Linked DNA regions of Homo sapiens. The protein of the gene in region 1 purifies or fractionates together with the protein of each later gene. This does not show direct contact. Each region holds a gene or a part of one and is shown on either strand. Other genes may lie near its edges.

What was found.
Region 2: the proteins of LILRA5 (region 1) and CNTNAP3B purify together in Homo sapiens (affinity purification with mass spectrometry; one large-scale study listed by BioGRID and IntAct). This does not show direct contact.
Region 3: the proteins of LILRA5 (region 1) and IDUA purify together in Homo sapiens (affinity purification with mass spectrometry; one large-scale study listed by BioGRID and IntAct). This does not show direct contact.
Region 4: the proteins of LILRA5 (region 1) and BOLA3 purify together in Homo sapiens (affinity purification with mass spectrometry; one large-scale study listed by BioGRID and IntAct). This does not show direct contact.
Region 5: the proteins of LILRA5 (region 1) and PLXNA1 purify together in Homo sapiens (affinity purification with mass spectrometry; one large-scale study listed by BioGRID and IntAct). This does not show direct contact.
Region 6: the proteins of LILRA5 (region 1) and ERFE purify together in Homo sapiens (affinity purification with mass spectrometry; one large-scale study listed by BioGRID and IntAct). This does not show direct contact.
Region 7: the proteins of LILRA5 (region 1) and STAM purify together in Homo sapiens (affinity purification with mass spectrometry; one large-scale study listed by BioGRID and IntAct). This does not show direct contact.

Annotation. Positions count from the first base shown.
Region 1 is NC_000019.10:54,306,570-54,310,166, forward strand, and holds the end of LILRA5 (leukocyte immunoglobulin-like receptor subfamily A member 5 isoform 1 precursor), read right to left. Parts: intron 1,180-3,597; coding exon 1,129-1,179; intron 981-1,128; coding exon 844-980; 3' UTR 501-843; downstream 1-500. UniProt on the Homo sapiens protein: May play a role in triggering innate immune responses. Does not seem to play a role for any class I MHC antigen recognition.
Region 2 is NC_000009.12:42,122,927-42,126,426, reverse strand, and holds part of CNTNAP3B (contactin-associated protein-like 3B precursor), read left to right. Parts: intron 1-3,500.
Region 3 is NC_000004.12:1,000,544-1,004,043, forward strand, and holds part of IDUA (alpha-L-iduronidase isoform a precursor), read left to right. Parts: intron 1-68; coding exon 69-154; intron 155-338; coding exon 339-446; intron 447-924; coding exon 925-1,020; intron 1,021-1,135; coding exon 1,136-1,338; intron 1,339-1,438; coding exon 1,439-1,618; intron 1,619-1,725; coding exon 1,726-1,942; intron 1,943-2,188; coding exon 2,189-2,401; intron 2,402-2,492; coding exon 2,493-2,614; coding exon of another isoform or gene 2,615-2,801; coding exon 2,802-2,927; intron 2,928-3,005; coding exon 3,006-3,082; exon of another isoform or gene 3,083-3,086; intron 3,087-3,468; coding exon 3,469-3,500.
Region 4 is NC_000002.12:74,134,900-74,137,912, forward strand, and holds the end of BOLA3 (bolA-like protein 3), read right to left. Parts: intron 760-3,013; coding exon 694-759; coding exon of another isoform or gene 623-693; 3' UTR 501-622; downstream 1-500. UniProt on the Homo sapiens protein: Acts as a mitochondrial iron-sulfur (Fe-S) cluster assembly factor that facilitates (Fe-S) cluster insertion into a subset of mitochondrial proteins. Probably acts together with NFU1.
Region 5 is NC_000003.12:126,986,115-126,989,614, forward strand, and holds part of PLXNA1 (plexin-A1 precursor), read left to right. Parts: intron 1-2,406; 5' UTR 2,407-2,479; coding exon 2,480-3,500. UniProt on the Homo sapiens protein: Coreceptor for SEMA3A, SEMA3C, SEMA3F and SEMA6D. Necessary for signaling by class 3 semaphorins and subsequent remodeling of the cytoskeleton. Plays a role in axon guidance, invasive growth and cell migration.
Region 6 is NC_000002.12:238,165,470-238,168,969, forward strand, and holds the end of ERFE (erythroferrone precursor), read left to right. Parts: intron 1-136; coding exon 137-215; intron 216-1,486; coding exon 1,487-1,585; 3' UTR 1,586-3,421; downstream 3,422-3,500. UniProt on the Homo sapiens protein: Iron-regulatory hormone that acts as an erythroid regulator after hemorrhage: produced by erythroblasts following blood loss and mediates suppression of hepcidin (HAMP) expression in the liver, thereby promoting increased iron absorption and mobilization from stores.
Region 7 is NC_000010.11:17,682,151-17,685,650, forward strand, and holds part of STAM (signal transducing adapter molecule 1), read left to right. Parts: intron 1-2,524; coding exon 2,525-2,600; intron 2,601-2,681; coding exon 2,682-2,777; intron 2,778-3,500. UniProt on the Homo sapiens protein: Involved in intracellular signal transduction mediated by cytokines and growth factors. Upon IL-2 and GM-CSL stimulation, it plays a role in signaling leading to DNA synthesis and MYC induction. May also play a role in T-cell development.

The DNA.
Region 1 (3,597 bases):
CATGGTGGCATGCGCCTGTAGTCCCAGCTACTTGGGAGGCTGAGGAAGAAGAATTGCTTGAACTCGGGAGGTGGAGGTTGCAGTGAGCCGACATAGTGCCACTACACTCCAGCCTGGGTGACAAAGCGAGACTCCGTCTCAAAAAAAAAAAAAGAGCGAATGGGGCTTGAAGGCTACAGACAAGAGGTTAGGACGCCATTTTGGATTTATCTTTTCCTGGAGGGCATCTGATCTTCTCCCATGGATTTAGTTACTGGTTCAGGTGTGGAACTCTGAACTGAAGAGATGGAGGCTCAGTAAAGCACACAGGGAGTGTGATAATGAGAATTGAAGTGGACTGTGTGACACGCCAAGGACCAGAGCATGCAGGTGTGCAGAGATGTGGACCCAACGCTGCCTGCCATGTGGGATGTAGCCTCATGTCTCGGGCTGGGAAGAGAAGGGAATCCAACCAAGGGAAGTCAACATTAATAGAAAGGAAAGGTGTCACATTTTAATGGTCCTCCATGGATCACCCCAGACCAGTGTCTCTGCACTCAAACACCCATTCCTCCCTCTAGAAATTGCCAGAGGCTGAGGCAGGAGAATCACTTGAACCCGAGAGGCGGAGGTTGCAGTGAGCCCAGATTGCGCCACTGCATTCCAGCCTGGTGACAGAGCAAGACTCCATCTCAAAAAAAAAAAAAAAAAAAAAAAAGAAAGAAAAGAAAAGAAAGAAAAAAAGAAATTGCCAGCAGACAGTCCAGATGGCATAGGCCTCAGATGGTCTTCCCGAACCTCCTAGGACCATCAGATTCGCTTCCAAGGCTCCAGCATTCAATGGTGCATTGTTCTCTCTTCTGTTCACCTTCCAGCTGCAGCTTGGGGGCTTCTCTGGCTGTGCCAATCCTGAAATATCAGAATCCCAAGGACCACCAGGATCAAGCCGGCCATGCCCATGCGGATGAGATTCTCTACTGCGTAATCCTGAAGGTGTGAGGCTGGGGATGGTGGACAAAGAGGTCACAGAGGTCAGGGCAGATCAGTATCACCCAGGACCCCTGGATGTCTCCCCAGGGCACCCATATCATCTTGACAGGACCTGACCCTCTGTGCCAGTTCCATAACTGAGAGCATCTCCTCACTCACCAGTCCCAGAGTCAGACTTGTTTTGTGACGGACTGAGGTTATCAGCTGCTCCTGAAAATCAAAACAGGGGAAGGGGAAGGAGAAGTTCTTGAAGCAATCTGAGCCCAGCCTCTCCCCTGAGCTCTGCATTCTCCTAGTTCCCTGTGCCTCTCAACATGACTTTTATGGAGTTCCTCCATAAACCCTCCCTCTGCTGGAGCAGGGTTCCCTCCAGTCTCCTCACTGAATTATTTCAGCTTTCCTTTGTTCTTTGAATTTAAACTTTGCTCCTGAGTCATTTGGGAAAGAGCTTTCCTGCACCGTGAAAGCTCAGGATCTGCAAGGAAAGTGGCCCCCAGAAGTCACTGAGCCCTTTGTGCTCTCTGTGCAGCCTGGGACACAGGAGCACATAAGCCAATTCCCCCAGAGATGAGAGTTTCACGGATCCACCAGCTGAGGACCCAGGCTCCATGGATGACGGGTTGGTCCTCAGGGGCTCCTGAAAGTCAGAATCACAAACAGCTGCCTCCCCTTGACGCCACCTCAACCACCTCACCTGGTGTTTCATCATACAATAAGTCTCTAGTCAGCTAACTATTCATATAGTCAGTCATATATATATACGTATGTATATAAATGTGTGTGTGTGTGTGTGTGTGTATATATATGTATATATAAATATATATATATATATATATATATATATATATATATATATATATATATATATATGGTGTTACAGAGGCTCATAAAACAATTTCTGCTTTTAGGGCCAGGCGTGGTGGCTCATGCCTGTAATCCCAGCACTTTGGGAGGCCAAGGCGGGCAGATCACGAGGTTAGGAGTTCGAGACCAGCCTGGCCAACATGGTGAAACCCCGTCTCTACTAAAAATAAAAAAATGAGCCGGGCATGGTGGCACCTGCCTGTAATCCCAGCTACTTGGGAGGCTGAGACAGGAGAATCACTTGAACCTGGGAGGCAGAGGTTGCAGTGAGCCCAGGTCATGCCATTGCACTCCAGCTTGGGCAACAGGGCAAGAGACTCCATCTCAAACAAACAAACAAAAATTTCTGCTTTTATAAAGTGTGAGTCTAGGTGAGAAGACCAATAACAAACATGTAAAAGCCCTCCATGTCAAATACATTAAGCATGTAGATATACGTATAAAAAATATATGCAGATATACCTACACTTATATTCAGATGTAACTTATATAACCATACATAAATATGTATATATGTAAAACTTTAGATATTTATTTAAGATGCAGTTACATGCATATTAATACTTGAAGTGACAAAAATTGATATGCGGTTTAGAAATAAAAAATAAAATTTCAATTTTCTTATAGTTAATATAAATTTTATCAGTAAATTTGGGGAGATCAGTTGAAAGATAATTGAAAGGGAAAAATGTTATAGCAAGCTAAAATGAAATTAAATGAATATACTCAAACTAAAAGCTTTCTCATGTGTATATCTTACTTAGAAATATAAATGAATCAGGCTGGGCATGGTGGCTCACGCCTGTAATCCCAGCACTTTGGGAGGCCTAGGTGGGTGGATCACGAGGTCAGGAGATCGAGACCATCCTGGCTAACACAGTGAAACCCCATCTCTACTAAAAATACAAAAAAATTAGCCCGGCATGGTGGTGGGTGCCTGTAGTCCCAGCTACTCGGGAGGCTGAGGCAGGACAATGGCGTGAACCCAGGAGGCGGAGCTTGCAGTGAGCCGAGATCGCGCCACTGCACTCCAGGCTGGGCGACAGAGCAAGACTCCATCTCAAAAACAAAAACAAACAAACAAACAAAAGAAATATACATGAATCAAATACTTCACTTAAGAATAAAGTAGTTGAAGAATTTTTTAAATTAGACTAAATGTACACATTCTTATGAACGGAACTTGAAAACACTTATTAACTTCATTAATAAACTTCAATTTTATATATTAATAATAGAAATACTTGCTATTAACAACTAATTTTATACAGCAAATGTAAATATTGAATTATGCCCCCAGGACAATGGGAGTGGAATTACTTGTTTTTAAATCATAAATCCATATATCTTAAAGAGACAAATTTAAATATTCAAATATTGTTTTAAAAGATTCAGAAGAAGAGAGAAAAAATAAACAAGTATGCCCAGAAAATGCAGAGCAGCAATGAACAGCAGACAAGACGTGCTGTGAATAAGTTCCTAACTTCCTCCAGGGAGCAGGTGCGCGGCCCCTCCTTTGTCTCAGGGGTGCCCTGAGCACAGAGGCCTCCAGGTGAGCACAGGAGGGGCGGTGTGAGTGGTACCCACAGCTGGGGCGCTTCTCTCTAAAGGAGCAGGTCTGGCGTGGACTCCAGCCTCATCACCGTCAGATCCCACCGAGGCCTGAGCAGCCTCCTCCCCTGTCCTGAGTGGGCTCAGGGACCCCGCAGGTGTGGGTGAGGGGCTCCATCCTCAGGGGCTCTTGGAAATGAGAAGTGAGAGCTG
Region 2 (3,500 bases), on another chromosome or scaffold:
CACTGAGTGAAAGGTCACTTACTGCTCTCATTGAGTCCCTGAAAACAACAGGAAGCATCAAGAGAAAGATTGAACTCTGGGCACTGATCCCAGGGATACACAAACAAATGGCTGGGCAGATTTTGCAGAAATTCCTGTAATTGGTAAAATGCTGAGTAATAGCCTTTGATGTAACTTTTCAGTGGGTTAATTTATTCATTACTTAGCCTAAAACACTTTTAATTTTAATTGCCTCAATTTTTTCCCCTAAATGGTTATGTTTTGCAAGTTCGCCAGCCAGCCTGGGGAAAGAAGGGTAAGCCTACTATAGAGTGTGTGTGGGTTAGTTAGGAAACTCACTTAGATGTGAAATGTGTCAGGAAAGAGATCTCACAGAGTGTAGGAATAATTATTTTTACAGATGTTTCATTTTGGACCTTTTAGTAATACCATTTTAAGAGAGATTCTGCAGATGAGTAACAGACTCTTAATTTTAGTGTCAAATGGTACTCTATAAAAAATGGAGTTCAGGCTGGGCACGGTGGCTCACAGCTGTAATCTCAGCACTTTGGGAGGCTGAGGCGGGTGGATCACTTGAGGTCGGGAGTTCGAAACCAGCCTGGACAACACGGTGAAACCCTGCCTCTACTAAAAATATGAAAAAATTTCAGGGCATGGTGGCAGGTGCCTGTGAGGAGGCAGTGAGCTGAGATCGTGCCACTGCACTCCAGCCTGGGTGACGGAGTGAGACTCTGTCTCAAAAAAAAACAAAAAAAAAAAAACAAAAAATGTAGTTCACATGCCTTTATTCATTTTCACCAAACTCTATACAAACAGTACGGAGCTGAAGTAGCCCATGGAAATGATAATCAATTCCAAGACATTGGTTTGATCATGAAAAAAGAAAAATCAAATTACTTGGCATTCTTCTTCCTCTTCCTTTCCCCTTCTCTTTTTGAACAATTCAGTCCAAGGTCATTCAGTTCAGCTTAGGCATCCATGCTGGGTAGTGGGGAGGCCCAGGACCATGGCAGAGCATTCAGAAACCAGCAGGGTAAGGAAAGCATCCACAGTATAGCAAGGGTGGGGACCTGGAGAGACAGGAGACAGCACTGGTGGTGACCTATAGCAAGTTGTCAGAGGTTGAGTGGAGTGAGGAAGGAGGCATTCCAGATTGACAGAGGCTAAGAAAACAAGGCAACTAAATACTATTCTGCATTAAATGCTTATGTTATAAAGGACATGATTGGGAATTGGTGAAACTTGAACAAGATTGGGGATTAAATATTGGAACTTTATCCATGATGACTGTGATGATCATATTATGGTTATATAGGAGAACATCTTTGTTGTAGGAAATGTACATTGAAGTATTCAGGGGTGATACAGCATATTAGCATAGTTCTTCCATGTTTTCTGTAAATTGGTTTCAAAATCAAATGGTTACTTTAAAAAACCATTCAAAATTGTGTTTAAAGGAAACATGGACCAATAGAAAAACTCAGAATAAGTAAGTGTAGTTAAATTGATGCATTTTACCTAAGAGATGTAGATTAAAAATAAAGAGGCTGAAAAAAAAACAATTATGAGAAATAACAGTTCATTTATATATGTCTCTAAATCAAATTAGCCTGGATTTCTGAATGACAAAGATGTAATTGGCACTGGGATTGTTCTCCATTCTTTTTGGGAAGTTTATTGCCTAGGACATCTGTATCAGTCTTCGAAGTACTTTTTAAAGCTTGAATATCTGAATGAACCCGTCAGACTGACTGTTATCTGGTCTTCTGTAATGGGCTTCCGCACCTTTGACGAGACTCTTAGCTGAAAGGTTGCTTGTCCCTAGGCCCGGTTGCTCCACGTTGTAAGAGCATTTGCAAACGCTTGGTTGTACATGACTGTGCACATGTCAAGTCTGCTCTGTCACTGTAGAAAAAATATTCCTTTTCCACTTGACATATAAGGCATGGAATTGTTTGTTTTAAATGTATTTTGTCAAGGAATTCATATATCTGCTTGATGTGTTGTGGTACTGTATAAAAGACAAGTGTGAAATTCATTGCTTACTATGATAGCCTTAACAGGACTACAGTAAATCTAGTTTTCTAAAAAATGGAGTATATGCTTAGCTTGGTTAAAATTTTATAATGAAATGACTACTCTGGTAATAAAAATTAAAAAATATCATAAAGTGGGGGCTAAAAAATGATACTGCATGTGTTCCAGTTAATGAACATTTTTGTTGTAATAATACGAAGAGTGATTGAAATCTAAAAACATTTGAGATTTTAAAATAGTTTTAACCTTATAACTACAGGATTGTGATTTAAGTAGCATGCCTACTTAATTAGGCAGCAATTAAAATTATTGCTAAGAATTAAATTACCAAGAAGACGTGGTCTAGTATGTATTGCCTGGGCTGTGGTTTGAATTACTTTTGATTAAGTATAATCACATTTTTTGAGAGTATAAAAACAGAGGATATTACTTGCTTCTAATTCACAGATGTGTTTATGAACCATTGGCAATTAAAGCATTTGCAATTGAGGCCCTAAGAAAATTTTAGGTTAAAATAACATGTTGAGTTATGCCTTATAACTCAGTATATGCTTATACTTTATATGCTTTACGGAGTTTTGAATATATAATATATATGTATAATAGTATATTTTTCCAGGAAATATATAACTTGTAGTTCCTTAACTTATTTTGTAACTAAATCCCGTGGAAAAAAGTTTATTGAATGTCATTGCTTCTCAGGCAAATGTAGAGTTAGGAAAATGATATATATACATATTGGGAATCTTTTAGAAGGCTTGGACTTGGTAGCTCAAATCTTCTGCAACCTTGAGCTTCAACTTTCTGGCCGGTTCAAGAGATCTCTTCACTGTCCTTTTCATGTAAAGTCAATGTTTATGGAACACTAGACCAAAATGGAAGGATTCCTTTGGAAACTGAACAAACAGTTGAATTAGTCTTTGACTTGATGGAGTGATTTGATCTAAAATATTACCTATCAGTTTTAGATATCTGTTCAATCAGAGCTGCCTCCATATATGCAAATGATAATTTGTCTTGGATTTTTAGATATCTTAGCCCTCAGACAAGCTAATAGAGTTTAAATTGAACCTGGTGTTTTAGGGACAGTTGAATTGTTGGGTTGCCCAGGAAAACAGTCACATTTTTCTATAAGTATGTGTTTATTTGGCTGGAATGTGGGTGAGGAAGAAGTTATATGTGAATTAAAAGAAACATTGTCTCAATGTCACATGTTAAATTAAATTAAATTACAGGCAGAACTAAGCGAGTTTACGATTGCTGCCGCTGGGAGCAGAGATTATTTTCAGCTTACATTTATAACAGAAGGAGGGATTTAAAATATAGTATTATGCCTACCCTGATACAGCTAACCTCCTCCACCCGCCCCTCCACACACATACAGCTACATGCTTACCCTCGAACTATGAAAGAAGGGTGTCTCTCAGACATCCTATATTTAACCCAGCTTTGGACAGGTCCCT
Region 3 (3,500 bases), on another chromosome or scaffold:
ACGGTTCCAGCCTGGAGCATGGAGCTGTGTGGGCACCCTGCTTCCTGACGCTGACCGTCCTTCTGCAGGGGGTCCACTGGACGGGGCCTGAGCTACAACTTCACCCACCTGGACGGGTACCTGGACCTTCTCAGGGAGAACCAGCTCCTCCCAGGTGAGCTGTGGGCTCTGCCCTCCCAGCCCGCCTGCACCCCCTTGCCCTGCCCACCCTCTCCCTCACCCAGCCCCTCTGAGTCCTTGGATGTCCATTCAGGGCTGGCCTTGGTGCCGGAGCACAGGCCTGGCAGAGCATGGGTGTGGTGTGTGGTGGGCGGTGGGGCAGCCCTCCTGTGTTCCAGGGTTTGAGCTGATGGGCAGCGCCTCGGGCCACTTCACTGACTTTGAGGACAAGCAGCAGGTGTTTGAGTGGAAGGACTTGGTCTCCAGCCTGGCCAGGAGATACATCGGTGGGCGAGCGCAGGCCCTGGGGCCCTGGCCGGGGCGGGGGTACTCCTGGGCAGGTTGCACCCCTATCACGCAGGCTGCTGCCTGGTCAGGAGATACATTGGTGGGCAGGCGCAGGCCCTTGTGGGGGGATGGGGGTGACAAGGGATAGGTTGGTGGTCGGCGCAGGCCCTGGGGCCCCAGGCTGGGGGGTACTCCTGGGCTTGGTGGGTGGGCGAAGGCCCTGGGCCCCTGGGGTGGGGGGTACTCCTGGGCAGGCTGCACCCCTATCACCCAGGCCGCACCCCTATCACCCAGGCCGCCGCCCAGGTCTTGGACCCCCTTGAGCCAGCGCTTCCTGATGTGGGGCGGGAGGCTGGCCTGCATGGAGATGGGGTTCATCTTGAGTCAGACGCCCTTCATCACCTTGCACCCTCCCTCCGTGGGAGTCACTGAGGCGAGATTCACCTGTGCTGGGGGGACAGCAAGGCTCCTCTGCAGGTAGGTACGGACTGGCGCATGTTTCCAAGTGGAACTTCGAGACGTGGAATGAGCCAGACCACCACGACTTTGACAACGTCTCCATGACCATGCAAGGTGTGCACCGCTTCCTGGGGTCCTGCCCGGCTGAAAGGGGGCAGAGGAAGGCAGGAGCAGAGGCTAAGCCGCTCATCCCCAGGGCAGGTGTAGACGCAGTGCTCCCCCGGCCCAGGCTTCCTGAACTACTACGATGCCTGCTCGGAGGGTCTGCGCGCCGCCAGCCCCGCCCTGCGGCTGGGAGGCCCCGGCGACTCCTTCCACACCCCACCGCGATCCCCGCTGAGCTGGGGCCTCCTGCGCCACTGCCACGACGGTACCAACTTCTTCACTGGGGAGGCGGGCGTGCGGCTGGACTACATCTCCCTCCACAGGAAGGTGCGCCCTGCCCCTCCGTCCGCCCCGGTGTTCTGCGCCCTCAGCCGCTGTGCCCCGGGCCGCGCTGACCCTGGTGGTGCTGAGGCGGCCCCGCCCGCAGGGTGCGCGCAGCTCCATCTCCATCCTGGAGCAGGAGAAGGTCGTCGCGCAGCAGATCCGGCAGCTCTTCCCCAAGTTCGCGGACACCCCCATTTACAACGACGAGGCGGACCCGCTGGTGGGCTGGTCCCTGCCACAGCCGTGGAGGGCGGACGTGACCTACGCGGCCATGGTGGTGAAGGTGGGCCGGCCCAACGCCCTGCGCGCCCCCCGGCCACCTTCCTCCCGAGACGGGACAGGCGAGCGGTGGCCGCGCCACCCGGTCCCAGCTGCCCTGGACACCCGCAGGTCATCGCGCAGCATCAGAACCTGCTACTGGCCAACACCACCTCCGCCTTCCCCTACGCGCTCCTGAGCAACGACAATGCCTTCCTGAGCTACCACCCGCACCCCTTCGCGCAGCGCACGCTCACCGCGCGCTTCCAGGTCAACAACACCCGCCCGCCGCACGTGCAGCTGTTGCGCAAGCCGGTGCTCACGGCCATGGGGCTGCTGGCGCTGCTGGGTGAGCCGGGGCCGCTGGGGTGGGCCGGCCAGGGCCCTCCAGGCTGGGGAGCGGCTCCTGCGAAGGCCCCGCTGCGGGGAGCGCACTTCCTCCAGCCGCGCGCTTCCCGGGGTCGGCCTCCGCGTGGCGGGGCCTGGGGACTCCTTCACCAAGGGGAGGGGGAGCGAGTGGTGGGAGGCCCGGCCCTGGGTCGGGGGGCGGCTGGGCAACGACCCCACGCGGCGACGGCCCCCCCCCGCCCCGCAGATGAGGAGCAGCTCTGGGCCGAAGTGTCGCAGGCCGGGACCGTCCTGGACAGCAACCACACGGTGGGCGTCCTGGCCAGCGCCCACCGCCCCCAGGGCCCGGCCGACGCCTGGCGCGCCGCGGTGCTGATCTACGCGAGCGACGACACCCGCGCCCACCCCAACCGCAGCGTCGCGGTGACCCTGCGGCTGCGCGGGGTGCCCCCCGGCCCGGGTAAGCCGGGGTTCCAGGGAGGTCTCTGGCCCCGCTGGGGCTCTGGAGGGGGCGGCCCGGGGAGCCGAGGCCTGAGTGTCAGGCCCCGCAGGCCTGGTCTACGTCACGCGCTACCTGGACAACGGGCTCTGCAGCCCCGACGGCGAGTGGCGGCGCCTGGGCCGGCCCGTCTTCCCCACGGCAGAGCAGTTCCGGCGCATGCGCGCGGCTGAGGTAGGTGGGCCGCGGAGGGGCGAGGGGCCGGGCCGGGCCGGGGTCCCGGGGGGGTGGGGTCCGGGGCGGGGGCTCCGAGGCGGTGTGGGTGGGAGGTGGAGCGGTGGGCCGGGGGCGTTCGCCCTGAGGTCGGGCCGAGCGTCCCCAGCTCCCCTGGAGAACCCTGAGGACCGGCCACTGCGCCCAGGACCCGGTGGCCGCGGCGCCCCGCCCCTTACCCGCCGGCGGCCGCCTGACCCTGCGCCCCGCGCTGCGGCTGCCGTCGCTTTTGCTGGTGCACGTGTGTGCGCGCCCCGAGAAGCCGCCCGGGCAGGCAAGTGGCAGTCCCCTAACCCGCGCCGCGGCCCGGACTCCCCTTCCCCGACGCCATCACAGCCCTTCCCTCCCCCAGGTCACGCGGCTCCGCGCCCTGCCCCTGACCCAAGGGCAGCTGGTTCTGGTCTGGTCGGATGAACACGTGGGCTCCAAGTGCGTGAGTGGGGCCGCCCCTCCCTCTGCCTGGTCCTAGGCAGGTCCCTGGGTCCCGACCCCTTCACCCATGCGGTCACTCGGGCCACTTGCCGTGGCCCATCGGCTCCCTCCCTCGCCGCCCTGCGTCCCTGCCCTTCACCCCACACACTGTGGGCCACGCGCCAGGCCCTGCCAGTGGGGTGTGGGTTCTCCTAGGGGACATGAGATGGACATTCGGGCTCCAGCCCTCTCCTGCCTGGGCAGGAAGAGTGCCCAGGGGCTGGGGAGGTGCCGCCGAGGGGCTTGAGGGAATGAGGCTGTGGGTCCACGCGGCCGTGCCCTGCCTGCTCCCACCTTTGAGGACTGTCTTGACCCCAGCCTTGTTCTTGGCCTGACCTCCCCAGGTGCCTGTGGACATACGAGATCCAGTTCTCTC
Region 4 (3,013 bases), on another chromosome or scaffold:
GCTCCTCGGTGTGACTTGCTCCCAAGTTCAGGGCAGGTCCATCTGATTGGCTGAGTCTGGAATATCTGCCTGTGCCTCAGCTGTGAGGGAGGCAGGGAAAGTAAGCCTTTTCAGCTTCTGTCGTGGGAGGTGGGCTCTGCCTCCTACCAAGAATCAAAGGGTGGAGGATCTTCAAACACAGGAAAAGAACCCGGATCCTGGCACCCCCAAATTTTCAGAGTCCATTTCAGAGCATAAGAAATTGAGGGTCCAAGATCATTCATGTAAGAAGTTTAGAGGGGGAAGAAAAGAATGATAAACGAAAAGAACAGCAATAGTAAAGGATCTTTTCTTTGTTTCAGTAAGATGAAGAGGCCTGAGCAGTTTCGTGGAGGGGAAGAAACAGGAAAACCTCTTCAAAAGACAAAAAGCTGGCACTGCATTCTCTCTCTGTAGCAGGACAGAACTGTCTAAAGACAAGACCCCTTTGGCCAAAATAAAGGAACCTGAAACATTACTAATGACCCTTCAAAAGCTTCAGTTGTTTGTTTCCTTTAATTAACATCTAAATAGATTATACATCTTCTATAATTATAATATGGAAATGTATATGAGCAAAATATATAAATTTTTTGGTGACTGCTTAGGGAAGAATGATGTCAGTGAAGTTCATCCAAGGTCTTAAGCAGCAGCATCTATGCAGCCAGGGCGTGGTCAGCGTTTGGGGACAGAGGTAAATATCCGCAATCCATGCATCTCTTTGATTTCTTCTTTTAGTGCCTAAGTAAGAAAACAGCATCATCAGTTTTTGTGTATTTGACGTTGATTACAGTAATTCTCTGAGAGTATTTTTATACAGCTCTGCATCTGAAGGAGACTTTGTATGTGCTTTGTTTAAGCAATTTTTCCTTTTTTTGAAAAACAATTTTTTTTAAATCAATAATATCTAACATGATTTAAAGATTCAAAGGTACAAAAAGGCATTCAGGGAAGTCTCCCTCCTATACCTGTCCATCTCCCCAGTTTCCACCCTTGTTCCCAAAAGAACTGTTGTTAGTTTCTTGTGTATCTTTTTTTTTTTTTTTTTTTAAGTCATGGTCTCGCTCTAGCGCCGAAGTTGGAGTGCAGTGGCGCGATATCGGCTTACTGCAAACTCCACCTCCTGGGCTCAAACAATCTTCCTGCTTCAGCCTCCCTAGTAGCTGGGACTACAGGCACATGCCACCATGCCTGGCTAATTTTTTTATTTTTTGTAGAGGCAGGGTCTCACTATATTGCCTAGGCTGGTCTTGAACTCCTGGACTGGAGCAATCTGCCTGTCTTGGCTTCCCAAAGTGCCGGAATTACAAGCGTGAGCCACTGCACCTGGCCAGTTTCTTGTGTATCTTTACAGGGACTTAAAAATGCATATTCACCAGGCATATTCAAGCTAATATATTTCACCCCATGACCTTTTAAAACGCAAATGGTTAAAATTTCAAACACATTACACCAAGCTTGTCCAACCCACGGCCCATGACAGCTTTGAATGTGGCCTAATATAAATTCGTAAACTTTCATAAAACATTTTGAGATTTTTTTTGAAATTTTTTTTAAAGCTCATCAGCTATCATTAGTGTTAGTATATTTTATGTGTGGCCCAAGAGAATTCTTCTTCCATTGTGGCCCAAGGAAGCCAAAGGACTGGACACCCCTGCTCTACACTTTGCTCTTCCCCCAAACATCTATCTTGGAGATCTTTCTATGTTAGGCATATATGGGTGTCCTGATTCTTTTTTGCATCAGCATAGTATTCCATTATATGAATGCATTATAACTTTTCAACCTGTCCCCTAGCGAACTTTTAGGCTGTTTCCTGTGTTTTGTTATTTCGAGCATCAAGCATTCTTTAAAATGAGCAGTTCTTTAAAATCATACCAATTAGCACAAATTCCCCAATGGTCAGAGCAGGAAATAAAGTTTCAAAGGAATTATGGGACTTGTTTTAAGGCTACAAATGGTGTCAGAGCCCAAATCTGAAGGAACTACCAGAGTCAAATAGATATTTGGCCCCTGTAGTGCTGGGAGAAAGTGAGGTTACAGAATCAGAGTGGGGCTTGGACCGCTCAAGTTTATAATCAGTACAGAGGAAGAAATAAGGTCCTTTTATACTAGGCCAAAATCTGATAATCATACTAGAGTGGACATTTTTCTTTTCTAGTCTCTTTAGTGATCTCCTTCTCTTGGGGAATAATTCCTTTTCCACTCTATTGTATAATTCTGGTGGAACCACCAATTGGTCTGATATTGAGGTCATTATGTGCCACTGGCCCAGCCTATGATTGGACCGAGGTGGCACATGACCCAAATTGGGCCACTTAGAATCTCCCTTGGGATTTCTGAGAGTGGAGCCTTGTTTCTTGGGCCAACATGCTATGAAATTAATTGGAGGTGGCCATGGACTGTGTTTCCCACCAAGGAGAGAAAGCCCATCTTTAGCAGGAGAAAAGGAGACCAACACAGGGAAAGAAGCTGAAAGCTCAGAGAGAGAGAGGAATCTAGATATGCCAGAAACCAGATAATTTTGTTACATGGGCCAATTAATTCCCTTTGTTTGCTTATGCTAATTTTAATTTGGTCTCTGTCTCTTACAATATAAAGAATCCTAATATATGTGGTCAGGTTTATAGATCCTTAGACACAATCTAGTCCCATCCCCTTATTTAATTAAAAAAAAAAAATAGAGTCTACTCCTTGTCCAAAGTCAGCAAACAAGCGAGTAATGGAATCAGGATATGAACCCAGGTATCCTGAGGTCCTGGCCATACCTGGTTTCCATCATGTTCCTGACTTGCCCTGATCCGGGAGCTCCTGTTGTGTTGGGGGACAATGAGCTGCCCCACTTGGCCTACACTGCACACCCTCCAGCTCCACAATCAAGTGCAGGGCCCTCAACTCTGCGGACAGGCAGAAATGTCCCTGGAAAAAGCCTCATATAATCACTGGGCGAAGGTCCCTGGGCCACTTGCTCTCTGCAGGCGTGGAATGCTCCCTA
Region 5 (3,500 bases), on another chromosome or scaffold:
TTATCCCAGAGGAGGGGAGAGCCCAGCCCCTGGTAATTGCAGGCCTGCTTTGAACTGATAAACGGTGAGTGATTCATGTTTTCTTTGGAGTTCACATGTGCTCAGCTCCCAGCCCCGGCCCCACTGCCACTGTGAGGAGCCTGTTTTCTGGCTCCCGGGTCTTCCTTGAGCTCTGAGGCGGGGGCGGGAGTGGGGACTCCTCCCCTGCTGTTCTTGGGGCGCTGTCCGGCAAAGGCAGCTGGCAGCCTGCTAGGAGCACCCTGCAGTTCCTGCTCTGGGATTCCAGCCAAAGCTCTTTGCTTCTGAGAGCCTCGGTTTCCCCACCTGAGCAGTGGGTGTGTGCTGTGCACACACTGGGCAGGGAGTGTGTGGGGAGTGAAACAGGAGTGAAGAAGCATGGGGGGCTGCCGCACCCAGACCTGGCTGGCCCTCCGCATACCCTTCATTCATTCGCTCACTCACGGGGATTTATTGAGTCTTCCTGGGTCCCTGGCTTGGCTTGGGGATGCAGTGGCAACCACCCAGAGCCAGGCCCTGCTCTCACAGGGCAGCCATTCTGGCCGGGAGAATGGGAGCAATAAGTAATAGAGACCCTTCACGAGTCCTGTGCTGCAGATGAGAACAGGGTGACTGAGCAGGGCGGGGAGTGGAGACAGGGGCACAGAGGCCTGGGGGAGGGGCAGGCAGCCCCACACTGCATGTGGGCACCAGGCACAGAGGCTGATGGGACTGTGCCCAGCTCCCTGGTAGACTTGGAGAAGGCATCCATCTTCAGGCCTCAGCTTCCCCATCTGTAAAATGGGGCCAGACCATACAAGGGGTGTCTGGGATGGTCTGTGCAAACTGGCTGGCTGAGGCTTGAACTCAAGACTCAGGACTCAGCCTTGCTGTAGCCGGCTCCAGCCAGGAGTGGGTGAGAGGCCCCAGCACATCAGGCACATCCAGGGCAGCAGGCCCTACTGACAACCAAGGGGGTGGCACTGCTGACTATGCCTTGTGGGCAGGTGTGCCCTTTCCTCTTTCATCCATGAGAAAAGAGCTTTCATGCCCCTTTTGCAAATGGGGAAACTGAGGCTAGGAAAAGGGAGTGTCCCCATCAGAGTCATCTGCCTACAGAGTAACAGGGTCTAGATTTAGCCCAGTGCTTGGCTGCCAGTTGCTAGGCAGGGTGTGGTGAGACTTTTCCAGAGGCAGTGGAGGCCAGGACAGGATATGGGGACTCCCGCCAGGATCTGGGCAGCGCTGACCTCGTGTGCAGGTCAGAAGAGTGGCCTTAGCCTCTGCATAGGGACCTGGCTGTAGGTGGTTGTGGGTGGAGGGAGCCGAGTACCCTGGCAATCCAGGAAGGAGGGGTGGGCATTTTGTGGAGTTTGGGGTGGAGTCAATGGACCTTGGTAGTGAGTGTGACCAGGAAGTGAGGGCCCGATGTGGAGCAAGGCAGGAGGGGGCCACACAGGTCTGGGTGGGTATGGGGTGCTGAGGCTGGGAAGGGGTCACTGTGGAGGGGTGGAGTGCAGGGAGCACCTGCCAGCCTTCCCTGTGGAGGAATTCCTCTTTCCTTGGAGTTGGGTGTGAGGCTGGGAGCAGGACTGGTGGCTTGGATAGAGTGCTGAGAGTCAGGGCTGGTGGGCCAGGGAGCCTGGGAAGGGGCCGTGTGGCGGGGCACCCGTCGGCTGGGGTGGGGATGTGGGTGGGACACATTGCCTGGCTTCTGGACTGCAGGTCTCAAGGTTTATCCAGCATGGGGCTTGGGGTCCCACCGAGAGCAGCCCAGGCTGCCACCTATCCACAGTGAGAACTGCTGCCTGTGTGGCCTGGGCCTCCATGTCCTCCGTGGTGCCTCTGCTGTGGGCTGTCAGGGCGTGTTCGGGGGAGAGGCAGGGCTGTGGAGGTGGGAGTGAGCACTAAAGCCCATCTATGTCAAGCTTCTGTAGGGGACGGTGGTGGAGTATGTCCCCACCAGCCTCAGGCAGGGAGCTGGTGCCCACCCTGGGAGTACAGAGCTGTGGGGAGGGTCCTGCTCCCCAGTGCATAGGGAGGCTCTGGGTGAAGGCTGCTCTCCAGGTTGGTGTCAGATGTTGGTGTCAGCTGGGGTCCCATTCCACACCTCAGGCCCTTGTCACCTGCCTTCCTGTTCCTGGCCTCCGCCAGTGATGGCAGGGCACAGGTGCCAACGGAGTGACCTCTTGCCAGGTGTCCTGGGGATACCTGGTGCACCCCACAGCTTATAGGGCCTCAGGCCAGGGAGGTGCCCAGTTTGCCCCTGGCTCCTCCTGGTGGGTCAGGTTCTGCCTCCTGGAGGTGCAGTGGGCACGCCCAGCACTGGAAGGGCTCACACTGGGAGATCATAATATCATGGGATGGGCCATGCCTGCATTCACATGCCCTCTTCTGCCCCTTCCCCAGGGCTGAAGCTCCTGGCACCATGATGCTCACCCCAGCAGGACCAGAGCACCGAGGCCCAAGGCCCCAGCCTGCCATGCCGCTGCCACCGCGGAGCCTGCAGGTGCTCCTGCTGCTGCTGCTGTTGCTGCTGCTGCTGCCGGGCATGTGGGCTGAGGCAGGCTTGCCCAGGGCAGGCGGGGGTTCACAGCCCCCCTTCCGCACCTTCTCGGCCAGCGACTGGGGCCTCACCCACCTAGTGGTGCATGAGCAGACAGGCGAGGTGTATGTGGGCGCAGTGAACCGCATCTATAAGCTGTCGGGGAACCTGACACTGCTGCGGGCCCACGTCACGGGCCCTGTGGAGGACAACGAGAAGTGCTACCCGCCGCCCAGCGTGCAGTCCTGCCCCCACGGCCTGGGCAGTACTGACAACGTCAACAAGCTGCTGCTGCTGGACTATGCCGCTAACCGCCTGCTGGCCTGTGGCAGCGCCTCCCAGGGCATCTGCCAGTTCCTGCGTCTGGACGATCTCTTCAAACTGGGTGAGCCACACCACCGTAAGGAGCACTACCTGTCCAGCGTGCAGGAGGCAGGCAGCATGGCGGGCGTGCTCATTGCCGGGCCACCGGGCCAGGGCCAGGCCAAGCTCTTCGTGGGCACACCCATCGATGGCAAGTCCGAGTACTTCCCCACACTGTCCAGCCGTCGGCTCATGGCCAACGAGGAGGATGCCGACATGTTCGGCTTCGTGTACCAGGATGAGTTTGTGTCATCACAGCTCAAGATCCCTTCGGACACGCTGTCCAAGTTCCCGGCCTTTGACATCTACTATGTGTACAGCTTCCGCAGCGAGCAGTTTGTCTACTACCTCACGCTGCAGCTAGACACACAGCTGACCTCGCCTGATGCCGCCGGCGAGCACTTCTTCACGTCCAAGATCGTGCGGCTCTGTGTGGACGACCCCAAATTCTACTCGTACGTTGAGTTCCCCATTGGCTGCGAGCAGGCGGGTGTGGAGTACCGCCTGGTGCAGGATGCCTACCTGAGCCGGCCCGGCCGTGCCCTGGCCCACCAGCTGGGCCTGGCTGAGGACGAGGACGTGCTGTTCACTGTGT
Region 6 (3,500 bases), on another chromosome or scaffold:
CCACCTCCACTGGAAGACCTGGCCAGGGTCAGGCACTTTGCTGGGCATGTGTTGGCTGCTGGCAGGATTGTGTGTCGTAGGTGAAGTTGGTGGGGTCTCATGGGGCAGGCTGACCCTCCCTCTGTTTTGGGTACAGCTCCCTGGAGGCCATCATGGGCCTGGAGAGCAGCAGTGAGCTCTTCACCATCTCTGTGAATGGCGTCCTGTACCTGCAGGTGAGTGCGGCAGGCTTGGGCATCGAGGGGCACCGCCTGGGCATGGCCACGGGTGGCTGGGTGCAGAAGGGTGCTGTTAGATGCTCAGGATCACTGGGTCGGGTGCAGCACCCTCAGACTCCAGGCCTGGGAGAGGGTCCAGGACATGCCAAGTTCTCACTTTGGTCTGGGCGCAGCCAGGCTTCAAGTCCTGATCTCCTTCCTCCAAACACAGCCCTTCCCCGAGGGCACCTGCCCGCTTGAGCAGCTGCTCCGCTCTGCATTCCCAATATTCAGACTCCCTGAGCACCTCATCCTGAGGCCCAGTACTCCTGGCCACCACAAGCCCGCTGAAGGGACTGGTGCAGGGAGGGAATGGAGGCCAGCACTCTGCCCAGGCTGACGCCCTGAGTCCCCTGTGACTATGGGAAGCCAGATACGTTATTTTCCTACCCAAAACCCTAAGTGACCATCTCTGGCACTGTGGGAATTTTGGCAAGTGGTAGAGAAATGGACATAAAGGTGGAATTTACTAACAAAGAAAACAATTGAGTGCAGGTGTGTGGAATAACAGCTGCTATTGAATTCTCCCAGAGCTTTGGAGAAGGTAGAGCTACTCCCCGAGTTAGCCCAAGTTCACACAGCAGAGCCAGAAATGGAGGCCAGGCTGTCTGGCCCAGAGTCTGTGCTTGCTGAAAGGCATTTAGAGGTCCCTTCTGGGTGCCACACAGCATGCTTGGTGAACTCAGATGGTCTCTGCCCCACCTGGATCTTAAGATGCAGATCCTGAGGCAGGTCTGGGTGGATCCCAGATTCTGCATTTCTGGGAGTTCCCAGGGAATGTGACACTGCTGGTGCATGACCACGCTGCTGGTGCATGACCACGTTTGGAGCAGCCAGGCTAGAGTGCTGGTTTCACGGAAGGCTCTGCCAAATGACTGCCTGTGGGGAAGGGCCACCCTCCCACCTGACTTGGAGCCCTTGCAGGCTCTGAGAAGCCCTGCAGCTGAGAAACCTGTTGGACTCTTGAATCCCACTCTGGCCTTGAGCAGGGGCCCACTCCCACACACGCGAACTGTAGGGCGCTGCAGGGAAAGCAGAAGAGGTGCTGGGTGGGGCCCAACCCGTGCGGGCCCTTGCTCTGTGACCTTGGCGGCCACATTCTTCTCTGGGCCTGAGCCCTTCCCAAAAGCGGGGCTGAGTGGGCAGGAGGGAGTGTGGCTGGCTGGCCCTTGGGTCACCTCTGCAGGCTGTTGGGGTGGCCCAGTGCCTCAAAGGCACCCTCCTTGCAGATGGGGCAGTGGACCTCCGTGTTCTTGGACAACGCCAGCGGCTGCTCCCTCACAGTGCGCAGTGGCTCCCACTTCAGTGCTGTCCTCCTGGGCGTGTGAGCGGCCACCACAGGCCCTTCCTCTCAGGGGCAAATGGAGCACAGATCTAGACAATGTGTGGACAGTGTCAGAGTAGCAGTGGCCACATGGAGGAGGAGGCCCACCCGGAACTCTGCCCACACTGGCCACTGCAGTTCAGCCCACAGAGCCACTGCAGGCAGGCCTACGGACGTGACACGCACGCTGGTGGTCCCGGAGCCAGGGTTGATTCAGGACACCATCTTGGGCTCTTATCCAGGAAAGAAAGAGTCGGCGTGCCTGGGGGCACCTGCTAGTCTCCAGCTGCAGGCCGACTCTTTCCTGGCCTGCTCAGCACCTGCCCAGATGGCCTCTGCGTCTTTCCTGTGCCCAGCCCCACCTTTTCCACCTCTCTTCATGTTCTCATGGAGTGCAAAGTGCACCAGCCAGGGCCCCTACCTGGGAGAGGGTCAGCTGACGCAGGGCTGAGGGGGCTGCCACAGGGACGTACGCTGTGTGTTCTTACTGCTTAGAAGGGACGGGGTCACTCACCACTCCCCTGGTCTCCATCTGGGCTCCTTGGTCTTCCCTGCCCCTCCCCTAACCGTGTTCTACCTGCCAGTGGAGCTGAGCACTGCCTAGCCTGGGCCAGAGGGGCACTGGACAAGGGCCTTTGGGGGACAGTAAGTCTGGGCCCAGCTTCTAGTTCTAATGTGTGCAAGATTAACTCACAAATTCACCTCAGAAGGCCTTTCCAAATGGGAGCTCCACTCTTCCCCTCCTCTGCAAATCTTCACAGCCAAGGCCCCTTCCACCCTCTCCAGAGGTGGATGAGATCCCTTTTCCCCTCCCCTCTGAGGTGCTGACTCACTGGTAGGAGCCACCCACCAGAGGAAAGATCTAGAACGTCTTTACAGATTGGAGACAGCCGGGCCTGCTGACCCATCATCCGAATAGCTGAAGCAGAGTCTTCCACCAGGGGTGCCAGGGCCTGGCTGGGTCCAGCGGCTCTGGGATGAGCCTCCCAAGCATCTTTCCCACTTGGGTGGCCATGCGGCGCTGACATTGGACAGGTGGTGGACGAGAGATGGTCCCGAGAAAGGGTGGTCTTGGGAGGGCTGGTCCCAAGCCTGCTGTGCTCCTGTGGCAGTGATGGGGCCTGGGGATGGGGACGGCAGCTCTCATGAGGACACACAGGCTGTGAGCCCGCAGCCTCCTCAAATGTAGCCTCCCACATTTTCCCCAAAGTACAGGACTGTCCCAGAGTAGGTAGTGAAGAGGACAAGGCCCTCGGCAGCGACCTCCAGGGCCTCCTACCTGCTGAGGAAGAGTTAACCCACTGCCTCCCCACACAACAGGCTACGAAGAACCTGGTGCCTCAGGACCTCCTGGGAGCCAAGCTGGTCTGGCAAGGGCGCTCAGGCCTGGGAGAGAAGGGAGCAATGGCCAGTCACCTTCACCTTCTAACTAACTAGCCTCCGGATGAGGTGGCTGCCACCAGGCCCGAATGATCCCCAGGAGCCCAGCTTCCAAACCCCAACATCGAATCAAACATCTCCATCCCCAAGTGCAGTAACACACAAAAACCAAACACTCTGCCCTGGGAAAGGCCTGGTGCGATTCTCAGTAGGACTCACACCCACCCTACCTAGAAGTACTGGGCTGGCCTGGGTACTGCATCCGTGTGTTTTGATAAGGGGGTGATGTGGCCACGCCCTTATCTAGATTTCACTTTGTATCCACTGGGCACAGATATTCTAGAGAACTTATCTTTCACTCTTGTAAAAGCCACATATCCACATCTCTTTCATTTTTCTCAGTGTGTTATGCAGCAATTTATTAAAGTATTTATTGTCTAATAAATACTGCCAAGTGGAATATATTTATATAACTGACTTCGTGGGGTGGTTCAAGTACTTACTTAAGAACTATGTGACACAACAGTTACAAAACAAAA
Region 7 (3,500 bases), on another chromosome or scaffold:
GTTCCTTCCACCTTATGCAAGTACTAATATGCATTGTCACTATAGATTAAATTTCCTTTTCTAGAATTTCATAAAATGAAATAGTATTGTCAGTACTCCTGTGTCTAGCACTAAATGTGTTTCTAAGATGAATTCAAATTTTTGTATGTATCAATATTCCTGTTTCTTGGGGAAGAGGTATTACATTGTGTTAATATATTACAATTTATCCATTCATCTGTTGATGGGCATTTGGATTGTATCCAGGTTTTGACTCTGAACAGAGCCTCTGTGAACATTCTTATAAAGAGTACTGGGTAGTATGCTTTCATTTTCATGTCCTTAAGGGAAATTATGGTTCTGTGATTTCATTTGTTGTAAGCCTTAGATATTTGTTATTTGATTTCCAAATATTTGGGTATTTTTATGCTATCATTTTGTTATCAATTTGTAGTTTAATTTTGTTATGGTCAAAGAATGTACTTTGTATGACTTTAGTCCTTTTAAATTTATCAGTGTTTGTTTTATAGGACAGAATGTAGTCCATTTTGTTGAATTTTCCATGCACATGAAAAAAAATGTGTATAATGCCATGGGTGGGTGGATTGTTGTGTAATGCCAGTCAGGTCAAGTTTCATGATAGTGTCATTCAGGTATTCCATATCAGTACTTTTTTTTCTTGTGTTATCAAGTCATTGAGGGGGCATGTTGAAGTTTCCAGTAGATTTGTCTGTGTTTCCTTTCGGCTGTATCGATGTTTCCTTTATATATTTTGAAGTTCTATTTTTGTGTTCATGCACATTTAGAATTATGTTTCCTTGGGGGACTTAACCGTTTTATTATTATGTACTGTCTCTCTTTATCCCTGTTAGTATTCCTTGTTATGAAAACTGCTAACGGTAGTGAATAGATAAAAGTGTAGTTGGATTACAATCTTAATCTGCCATTTTTCTAGATGATTGGTTATGTTTCTTCTGTTTTCTCTTTCTGTCTTTTGTGTATCAATCAAATGGTTTTTATGGTTTTATTTTTTTGATTTAAAACTTTGTTTTGAGACAGGGTCTCACTCTGTCTCTCAGGATGGAGTACGGTGGTGCCATCACAGCTCACTGCATCCTCGACCTCTGGGGCTCAAGTGAACCTCCCACCTCAGGCCATTCACTGCGCCCATAGGAGCTGGGACCATTTCTGGCTAATTTTTGTATTATTTTTTGTAGAGATAGGGTTTCACAGTGTTGCCCAGGCTGGTCCCAAACTTCCGGACTCAAGCCATCTGCCCACCTCGGCCTCCCAAAATGCTGGAATTATAGGTGTGAGCTGCTGCACCCAAGCTATTTTATTTTCATTTTTCTCTTAAAAATATTTGTAGTGGTGGCTCTGTGTTAAATTTTTTCATTTTTTTTCTCTCTGTACTTCAGTTTGGGTACTTTCAGCATATTTTCAAATTTACTGATCTTTCATTCTTACCTGATTAATTCCATCCACTTTTTAATTTTACATATTTTTTTGTCTCTAGACTTTTATCTGGGCCCTTTTTAATATATTTCTTCATCATTATGTGGATGATTTCCAGCATGCTTATAATAGCTTATATAAAGTCCTTGACTGCTAATTTCATCATCTTTGTTATTTCTGCATTCTCAGTTGACTGAATTTTCTGCTAGTTGTGTATGGTAGTTTTCTTCTTCATATCATGTCTTCATATCATTTTATTGAATGCTTAGTACTTTGAATTTTATATTTTTGAGCATCAGGTGTTGTATTCCTGTTAAGGAGTATTGGACTTTATTTTTTCAGAAGTGGTTACATTCGTCTGTGGCTTATGTTGTTAGGCAGTATGTAGGTATGATTGAGCTGCATTGCTAGGGTCTAAACTCCCCTGTATATCCACTGAATCCTCTGGATTTTCAATAGATGCTTCACTGTGGCCTCATCTCTGACGACTGTGTGAGCGTTGGATCTCTTTAGCATATCGCCCTCGGTCACTTTTTGACCAGTTTCATGGAGTTTTTCACCTGTGCATGCGTGGGTTTTTCAGAAGGTCTTCACTGATACTTGGAAAGTGCCTCTAGGCAGAAAGTTGAGGCAAACTTCTGGCTTATCTAATTCATTTTCCTTCTTGGATATTATCATTCAGTACTGCCTGTGGCCTCATGTCTTTAAAAAGTTAACCTCAGTGTGGAAAATCTGTTTTTCCAGTTTTCTAATTGTTTACAACGGGAGTGTAAGTCTGGTCTGTTTTTCCACCCTGGCTGGAAGTGGAAGTCATGGCCTACCATTTTATTTTCAAACCTTTTTTTTTTTCCTACCCAGAATTAGCCTGAAATGCCTCATCTACGATTACTAATAAGAGAGCCTGTTAATTTTGTTTGAAAAATTTAAAGGAACTAGTTTACAGTTTTTCAACCGTGTTATTAATAAAAATTAAATTTCCCTACTTTATCATAGTCTCCCTTTTTATCGTAGTCTTTTGTCTATAACAGTTAAGGGGCAGGGGGAAGCTAGATGTATTATTAAGTAATTTTTACTTTTCTCATTTTTTTAGACCTAAGGATTGTCTTCGGTCTATTATGAGAAGAGTGAACCACAAAGATCCTCACGTTGCTATGCAGGCTTTGACTGTGAGTGGTTTCATTTTAATCTGTACCACGAAATTACCTGCCACAATTGAGCCCCTTTAACTTCTGATTTTGTGCTTTTAGCTTCTAGGAGCATGTGTATCAAACTGTGGCAAAATTTTTCATTTAGAAGTATGTTCAAGAGATTTTGCTAGTGAAGTAAGCAACGTATTAAATAAGGTAAGGAGCATTATTTCCAGAAATTAATTAAGGCAGTCTTCTTTCTTCACATATTTTATTGTTTAAATCTTCACAGAGGACTATTCTGTGCTTTTTAAGAAATCCTTTCTAGGCTGTGTCTATCCAGTATATAAATAAATATTATGTTTTGTTGAAGAGACTGCGGATTCATGTAACTTTGAGTTAGTTTTTTCAAGCCATATTAGAGTGTTTTTAACCTGTTCTTTTCCATCATACTTTCATCTGATAAGAAAACAGGTATTTCTATATCTAATTAAATAATATCAGTCTATTTTACATACTGTTTTTGTAGGCACAAGGTATTTTCCTAATGGAAAACCTTTCAGAAACACTGCAAAAAGTCTATGGCACCGTTGAGTTTTTATCTTTATCAATAAGGCTGCTTCCTGGCCATCACAGGATTTTAATACTATACTGCTATTCTTACTGGCTGAACCCACAGCTGGAGTTGCCTCAAAAGTGGTGGCGGGGGAGTTTCCACAAGGGACTGCCCCAAACTGTTCCAGATAGGGCCAGATGAGAGTCCAAAAAAAGAGGCACTAAATGCCAGGGTGATCAGTCTAAAGGATTTATTAGGGGAACTTACACAGGAGGGCTGCAGTTTATAGGAGGGTTTAAGGAATTTGGCTCAGGGTTGGGGCTGGTTTCTGTGTGTTTAGCAACATACTTGATCTTTTAGTGTTTTGGGCCACAACCTGAACA